Regions from separate parts of the Homo sapiens genome. Here region 1 is linked to region 2. Evidence: fine-mapped expression QTL. A gene starts in region 2. The other region holds a variant in brackets. All regions are shown on one strand. Distances are from middle to middle.

Evidence for each region. PIP is the estimated chance that this variant, and not a neighbour inherited with it, causes the effect.
Region 1: its variant is the best candidate, but not a certain one, in a credible set for the expression of CDON in fibroblasts (GTEx, PIP 0.53).

Annotation. Positions count from the first base shown.
Region 1 is chr11:126,108,400-126,112,779 of GRCh38, forward strand. No RefSeq gene overlaps it. Among named protein-coding and RNA genes, the nearest start is that of CDON, 48 kb to the left of the region's middle. The variant A/C (reference allele first, on the strand shown) is at 2,081.
Region 2 is chr11:126,060,262-126,064,641 of GRCh38, forward strand. CDON (cell adhesion associated, oncogene regulated) reads right to left here and starts at 2,605. Exons shown (of 20, transcript NM_001378964.1): 1 at 2,318-2,605. RefSeq lists an enhancer at 1-162 and silencers at 2,363-3,032, 3,103-3,192.

The DNA.
Region 1 (4,380 bases), 48 kb after region 2:
AAAATCACATTACAGCTTTTGCTGATAATACAAAATAGTATTTACATTCATCACTATTTTGAAATTATGGTAGTTATTAGATCTTATTTCTTTCTTTCTTTTTTTTTTTTTTCTTTTTGAGACAGAATTTTTCTCTTTCGCCCAGGCTGGAGTGCAGTGGTACAATCTTGGCTCACTGCAACCTCCGCCCACCGGATTCAAGCAATTCTCCTGCCTCAGCCTCCCGAGTAGCTGGGGTTATAGGTGCCTGCCACCACGCCCAGCTAATTTTCATATTTTTAGTAGAGACAGGGTTTCCCCATGTTGGCCAGGCTGGTCTTGAACTCCTGACCTCAGGTGATCCACCCGCCTTGGCCTCCCAAAGTGCTGGAATTACAGGCGTGAGCCACCGTGCCTGGCAGAAATCTTGTTATTTCATGTGTTAGTTAAAAAGCACATATATTACTATATCACACATGTGTTTAATGTTTTGATAACCACATTTTAATATAATTGGGTTCCTTTGTAAATCTAATCTATTTTTTTTAATTATTCTAGGAAGGGGCCCATGGACTTCGGACTGCATCCATGGCACAAAAAGATGAAGAACCGGGCTAGAGGCCAGGCCCAGTGGCTCATGCCTATAATCCCAGCACTTTGGGAGGCCAAGACAAGTAAATCTCCTGAGGTTAGGAGTTTGAAACCAGCCTGGCCAACATGCTGAAAATACAAAATTACAAAAAATACCCTGTCTCTACTGAAAAAACAAAAATTAGCTGAATGTAGTGGCAGGTGCCTGTAATCCCAGCTACACAAGAGGCTGAGGCAGGAGAATCGCTTGAGCCCAGGAGGCAGAGGTTGCAGTGAGCTGAGATTGCGCTACTGCACTCCAGCCTGGGGACAGAGTGAGACTGTCTCAAAAAAAAAAAAAAAAAAACAAAAAAAAAACAACTGGGCTAGAGGAGGCAATGTGGCATAATGAAAGAAAAGTCATAAATATCAGACAACCTGGGTGCAGATCTTGGTTTGAATGCTTAATTGCTGTGAAAACTAGGTCATTTATTTACCCTTTTGAGCCTCAGTTTTCTCATCTGTAAAACAGAGTTATTGAGAGAATTAAAGAAATAATATATATGAACCACCTAGCACTGGCTGGTCCTCAATAAATGAATGCTACCGTTATGATTATCAATGCCCACAATTATTGCCAAAAATCACAACCACAGTGCCATTGGTTCTGCCTTTCCCTCTTCTCCAAATCTTAGCATAGCTGCCCTTGGTTCTAGCAGGGACAGTGGTGTCCTGTGGCCTCCAAATAGCTTTGCCCCATATAACCACAGCCCCTGCCCTGGGTCCCACAAGGCTCTGGTCAGCTCTTCTGACCGCCTCTGCCCTGTCCCTGGCTCAGCCCACACACCCCACCGTTCCAGCAAAGAGGACAAAAATGCACATCCACCCTATGGTGGTGACATCCTGCAGTTTGCTAATGAGAAACAAGTGGCCTTCCATGCTCAGTGCAGAGGGAGGAGGACAGAGTCCCACCTCAGGCCAAACCCACATTTCTGAGGTGGCAGAGGGTGACACGGCCAGGAGGGTGCAAAGGACTCCTCCACCTAGATGGCTCCTTGGACATGAAGGCCCTTGGCGGGGCAGCCTTCCCTCCTCCTCTCTCACACCACAGCCCTTCCTGTTATGGGGCACTGGACAGGGCTTGGATGTGGGCAGGAGGGCAGCCAAAGCCTGAGTCACTGGGAGGGGACAGCTGGGTCTTGAGTTGTGGTCTCCGTGGGGAGGACTGGGAGGATGGGGATGGGTGCAGAGGCTCTTCCTCTCCACTCCAGAAGAATCTCTTCGCCCTCGAGGTGTGAGCTGGAGGCCTGTCTCTGGAGCCCTCTGCAGCCGTCTCAAACCTCACTGCCCTTCTCAGCCTCCAAGGCCCACCTCCTTCTCTAGGGGCACCCACTCCCTCCTCTGCAACTCAGTTCTTTCTCGCCCCAGCCTCATTAGTCAAACAGAAAACAGAGGCCCATAGAAGGTCATTGACTCATTCTGGGTAACAGAGCAGTGTGAGGACTAACGTCTACTGCCTTAGACTCTGAGT[A/C]AAGCTGGAGACTCTGGCTGGACCCTTGGCACTGGAAAGAGGGACTGTCCCTGAGGCTGGGGTGACCTGGCATGTCTCTCCCAGTCTGGCCCACTGGCAGCTCCATGCCCAGCTCCACAGGCACAAGTAGGTCAAAGCCAGCCTCCCTGAGCAAAGCCTGCCTGACGCCTGCCCAGAACGCTTGCTGCCCCTCTCAGCTATCTGTCCAATGCACAGGCCTCTCTGGCACCATCCAAGGCTGCACACTGGCTCTTGCTACCTGCGTCCTGCATCTATGCCCTCCACACTCTGGGTCCCGGGGTCCTTGGTGACTCTCCTCTACAACACAGCAGCCTTGGGTTGTCTCTTTGCCTGGGTTTCAGTATCTTCCAGAGCTTTGGGAGGGAGAGCTTCCTTTCCCTCATCAGCCCAATGGAGCCCCGCTCAGTCAGGCTTGTGTAGCCTCCTGTGAAAGGGACTCAGTGTCTAGTGAGGGCCCATTTCCCGGTTCATAGATGGTGGCCTCTTGCTATATCCTCACATGGTAAGGGAGGCAGGGCAGCTCTCTGGGGCCTGTTTCATAAGTGCACTAACCCCATTCCCAGGGGCTCTGCCTCCATGACCTAATCACCTCCCAGGGACCCCACCTCCCAATACCATCACACTGGGGATTTTGTTTCAACACATGAATTCTGGAGAGACACAAACATTCAGACTCCAGCATTTCCAATACGACTCGAGCCCCACCACACCACCCAATTCTTGGCAGTCCCTTCCCTTGGCCCTTGTGGCTCCCAGAACCCACAGGGTCCCTGCACGCAAGGGACTGAGCCCCAGAGCCACACTGCGGCTGCCCTTTGACTTTTCCCAATGCCCTGTCCCATCCAGAGAATTGGACCTCCTTGGAATGATGCTGACCCAAAAGAAGGCTGATTTGCAGCACCCTCTGGGCTGCTGGCCCCGGGGCCGGTCCTCTCAGGGCCCAGCATGATGGCTGCCTCGCCCCAGCTCTCCTGTCTCACTCCAGACTCCCTCATGCCTTGGAGCTGAGCCTGCAGGAGCTGTGGCCAGGGCAGGTTCTGGACCCTACTCCACCTCCCTAGCCCCTCCTCTCTCCTCCAAGCAGTCCCGCAGTGGGTGCCAGCCCTGCCTGGGGCTCTGGCTGCATGACAATTTCCAGGCCTACCTTGCGTGGGGACTGGGGATTGGGCATGATAAGAAACAGCACATGACAGATGTAGAGGTTGGGAAGGTGGCCTGGGAAGGCCTCTGCAGTGTGGATGCAGAAAACTTGAAGCAGAGTGGCTGGCAACTGCCCAGTCCTGGGCTTCCCAGAATGAAGGGAAGCCAGACCTGGGGGTGGAGAGAGGGGCCAGAAGATGCCCTCATCTCCCATGGAGTCGCCTGTCTGCTCGCGGTGCTTTTTCCAAGCTGCTGGCACAGCTCCCTCGCAGGCTATTATTGTCAACACCCTCCCTGTTGCCTGGTGTCCCCATGGAGGGACACTGCCATTGGCCATGTCTTTGCCACACCCTGTCCTTGCCACATCCCAGAGACCTGGGAGAAAGGACTGGGGATTTGAGGTCCCCAGGCAGCCCATAATGCCGAGAGACCTCACTGCCCCTTAGCTGTCAAGCTCCTCTCTCCTTGGCTTCTCTTCTGTGAATTTGAGACCCCTCTCTGCCATTCTACCTATGTCTTCTCCAAAAGCCTAGGGAAGGAAGGATCTGAGTGATGGAGACCCCTCACTCCCACACACAGGAAACATCAGGATGAGAAGCCCACATCTCTCCTCACTGGTGTCTCCCAAACCCACCTTCTCAAGGGATCTTTAGCCCCCAGCCTAGCAGTAGGTAGCATGGGCTCATTTTGAACCATGAGCCCAGAGCCGGGCTGAGCCCTTTCTCCACTGAAGGCCAATCTCTTGCCTATCCCCTGCCACACAAGTTTCCCATCCATTCTGGAACACCCTTAGTCACAGACTGTCTGTGTGGACTAAGGGGAGGCTTAGGGTGGCAGTAGCTGGACACTGTCTATACCTATGTCACCGAGGGATGCAGGGGCAGCTATTTCCTGGAAGAAGAAAACAGAGAAGCCCAGAGACAGGCGGCGGGGAGACAGAGGCGGAGACCAAAAGCAGCATGACAGAGAGACAGGAGCTGGGGGAAGCAGAGAGGGCCAAATTGACACCACATGGCTGCCGCGCCAGACCCCAGGGCCCAGCAAACAGGCTTCATGCTGTCAGTTGCCATGGTGACAAACATGCAGGAAATATCCAAGATAACTAGAATAGTGGCAATAACATGTGTTCTGGATAAAAC
Region 2 (4,380 bases):
TCTGTTTCTAATCTAATTAGTTTGTATTAAGTTCATTTACTTAAAGGGGGGCTACCATGTACGCAGCTCATCTACAGCTCCACTGTATTGTCTTACCCATACTTCTACATCATGCCATAGCTGATCACAAGGCGCTGGCTCATATCATTACACGTTAAAGCAACACATTTTTCAACTCATTATTTATTTTCTAACGCTTCCCTGATTTTTACTACGATAATATTTAATTCCTGAAATCATTTCCCTAGTATTTAACTTCGAAACAATCACCAATTTTTAGTCTAAACGTTCGTGGAAAAAAAAAAATTCTACAGAAGGAAAATTTTACTTCAACTTACATTTCGACAAAACCATACATGAAATTGTCTACAAAGTCATGAAGGCAGATGGGCGAAGTGGGAAAATAAGAAGCAAGCCCAAGAAATAGTCAACAAATTTTTACCTGCTCTCTTTAGAACAAAGCCCTAGGACATTAGTTCCTATTCCTACCTACTGCCTTCAGCTGTATATACCCTGACGATCTGGAGGAGAAAGTCCTATCTTAAAGTGAACTTAATTCTTTTCCTGCAAAGTCAAACCACCTGCAAAGAAAGCAAGGCGTAAGCTAGATTTAGAAGCCAAGCTACACAAGCTAGATCAGTATCCAAGTCCTAAGGGTTCTTTGTACTTGAAGGCTTGAGAGTCAGAGCTGTTTAAGTACTTTGCACAGAAGAGGAGGCTGATGAGAACCATGGCAATCAATCAAAGCATCCCAAGTGAGTTATTACACAAACAACAGCACAGTACCTCTAGTAACTGATTCTCCTGGCTGACTAAACTATTCAAACAAAGACAGATTTCCCAAACACTGGGAAGTTTTTGCATGAAAGTTAAACAGTATACATTTGTGTGTTTCTTAATAGAAATATAAATGTTTCTGTTCTACACACTGCCAAACACACACCCAGGGCACGTCTTTACAAAATGAAACAGGTTTTCTCCATCCTTCTCATATAACTTCAAGTATGAGGCAGTTCATTCCAACATGTGCATAACAGAGACTGCAGTATTTGGTGCTTCTCGGGTTCCAAAGAATGCTTTCTAGTTAAGCACTAATTTAAAATTTCCAGAAAATTTTTTGAAGGTTTTCTTTCATCTTATCTTAAAAGTTGAACTATCCCCAAATTTTCAGCTAAAAATAGACTGAGGGTGGGGGAGAACTACAAAATGTCATAGAATGTTTAGAATTATGCTGACAATAAACTCATTTCATTTTCTAACACCCTCCCCACCTTCCTCTCCTTGGAGACACTGTCCACTAGGTATGCCAAGTGTCAGTTGGGAATTTGAGGGTTATGTTATCAGCGCCGAAAGGAATCAGAATTCACTGACTTGGCGTCTTTCATCTTTACTGGCATAGGCCTGAAAATAAATCTCATGTGAGCTTTTAGTCCAACCTCCTGTTTTTCAAGGTGTCTGGTTTGGGACACAAAGGCTGACTTTCTGTTGATGAGGTTCTCTAAATTCTGGATTCCCACTGGAAAGCAGTCTGCCCTTAAAGCACCTGCCACCCTCTGTCGTCCTGATGAGGAAGGGCAGGCATTCTGGAAACAGCTCCTTTTGGAGAGCCTTCCACCTGATTTGGTGGGGTTAGGGAGAACAATGAAGGGAAGGGCAAGAGAGTCTATCTATCCCCCTCAGTGATTTATTGCTGAAATTCCTAGATGTGGAGAGAAAGCAACAAAGGTCTGGAAGCTGCCGACTGAAATAAATAGCGAGCTGTAATGTATTTAGCAAATGATAATGCAATCCACAGAAAGCTTTACAGAGGAGAAGGAAAAATACACTCCCTGGGGCTGGGAAGTCAGTGAGTCTTGTGAAGGCAGAGAAAGATACATTGTGCAGGAAATTTCTCTTGCTTCTCCCTACACATAAATCACTGTCTCTCGCGGGCGCTCTGCAGGGATGGAGATTGAGAGAGGCCAGGGACCCGGCTCCCTTGGGAAAACGCGCGGGCGCCCTAGCTCCCCGCTCTGCGGCATCTCACCTGCCCCCGAGGACCATCGTCAAGAAGAGGTTTCGTCGTGTCACTGACACCTCACCCCGCCTCCTCCCGCGAGGTGCCTCCGAGCCCCCGAGGACGCGGAACGCCGGGGCTCCCCGCCGGGCAAGCATCAGCATCCAGACCCCGCACGCAGCCCTGCACCCCCACGCCCTCCAGGGAACGCCGGCCCGCCCGTCCCCGGGACCTCCCGTCCCCTAAGCCAAGGCCCCCCAAGCCCAGTGCCCGCGCGCCACCCCTCCCTCCGACCCTGCGGCGGGACCCCCACCCCCGCACCTCTCCGCGGGGCTGGCTAAGCCTCCAGACCTCCTGCGCTGCAGCCGGCTCGGAAAGCCACCCCCAGGTCATCCCCCCGCGCGCGCGCGGCGGCGGCTACGGTGGCGGCGGCTGCGATCCGAACGGGCCCCTCCATGCACCGCGCAGGGCAGAGGAGGGAGCGGCGCCTCGCACGCCGGGGCTGGGGCGCTGGGCAGGGCGGGCGGGCGTGGGGTCCCGGGTCTCCTCGCACCTAGCCGCGCGAGCCGGGCTCCCGGGCTCAGGGGAGGGGAGCTGAGGGGCGGAGTCACCGGGGCGCGCCCCCGCGGCTGCGCTCCTCCCCGCCGGGGAGCGCGGGCACGTAACTCGGAGGGTGCTGGGCCGGCCCGGAGCACGCGAGCAGCGGGAGGAGGGACCGGGGAATGACTGACGGAGGCGGGCCGTAGAGGCCGCTGTGCCCCGCCGGCCCGCACCCGGCCGGAGTGTGCGCGCGCAGCCTGCCAGATCAGCGGCGGGGGCACGGGCCGTACCAAGTGACGGAGGGGGGCACGCTCTGGGCAGGACCCTCTCCTCGTCATTGACCTGCCTACTCTGCAAGAGAGATACCCCAGGGGAGCATAGAAGAGGCTTTTCTTGGGTGTAGGACAGGTAAGGGTGAGTTGCCTTACCAAGTCACGGAGATTCCCATCATGCCTGCACTCACGCTCCCCTCACCTTTCATTCCCTTGGAGAGACGGCTCTTCTGGCAGGTCTCCAAATGGTCGACTCTGTCCCCCGAGGCCCCGCCCTAGCCTCGTTCGGGCCCCGCCCTAGCCTCGTTCGGGCCCCGCCCTAGCCTCGTTCAGGCCCCGCCCCTCGCCCCGCCCCGCCCCTCGCCTCTACCTAAGTTCTCTGAGCCGCCAACGGGTGCATCCCTTCTCCCGGTTCTTGCCTGGTCTCTCTTAGGGTTCCAGCGGCCCACCGCTTATACCTCCTTCGCCTTTCCACCACTTTCCATGTTTAATTCCTTAGGCAGCTTCATCTGATTCCCCCACCACCACCCACCCGCCCTGCCTGCACATAAACGCAAGCAGGTAGCAAAACTCAGGGGCTAGGAGAGGCGTGGTGTGAGCCTTTGGCCCCAGAGTCTTTCCAACTCGTCCGTTGGACCTGCCCCAAGTTATCTGAACTCAATGAACTTCAGTTGTTCAAACAGAAAAAGGAAAAATAAATTTCTATTCAAAATGTTGCTGTGAAGCGTAAATACGATACTTTGTGAAAAGCACCTGCCACTCAGTGGGCATTCAAGGACTGTAACTTCTTTATAAATTGTTATTATTAGCAGTTAGCTCTTTTTTTTCCCCATCATCATTACTTACTATTAGCTTAACTACAAAAGGATCCCTAATAATAGTTAAGTTTATAAATACTCAGTACTGAACTTCAGGAGAAATATGCCAGTCCTCCCTTACCTTCTTACGTGAATTTTAAAAAGAAATGCTTTGAAAGTGTGGTATTGTTCAAGCAGGTTAGCTTTCTGCATTAGCTAGATTCAGGGTTTTTGTAAAGCCCCTGGAAAGAAAGTCAGTACAGGACGGAAAAAAAAAACACAATTTTTTTTCTTAAGACGGAGTCTCACTCTGTCGCCCAGGCTGGGGTGCTCTTGTTGCCCAGGCTGGAGTGCAATGGTGCGATCTTGGCTCACTGCAACCTCCGCCTCCCGAGTGCAAGCGATTCTCCTGCCTCAGCCTCCCAAGTAGCTGGGATTACAGCACGTGCCACCACACCCGGCTAATTTTTGTATTTTCAGTAGAAACGGGGTTTTGCCATGTTGGCCAGGTTGGTCTTGAACTCCTGACCTCAGATGATTCTCCCGCCTTGGCCTCCCAAAGTGCTGGGATTACAGGCGTGAGCCACCACACCCAGCCAGAAAAAAACTCTTAACTCTAGTTTGTCCTCCACTGTTCTATTGTTCACTTTTGGAGACCAAGAATCTATATGTTATTAACAAGCTATGGTAAACGATTTTTCATTCGGCAAGTAAGTCTTTCTATAGAGGATTTAACTGAAATGAGAGTTTTGTGTGGATGTTAATAGAAGTCTTG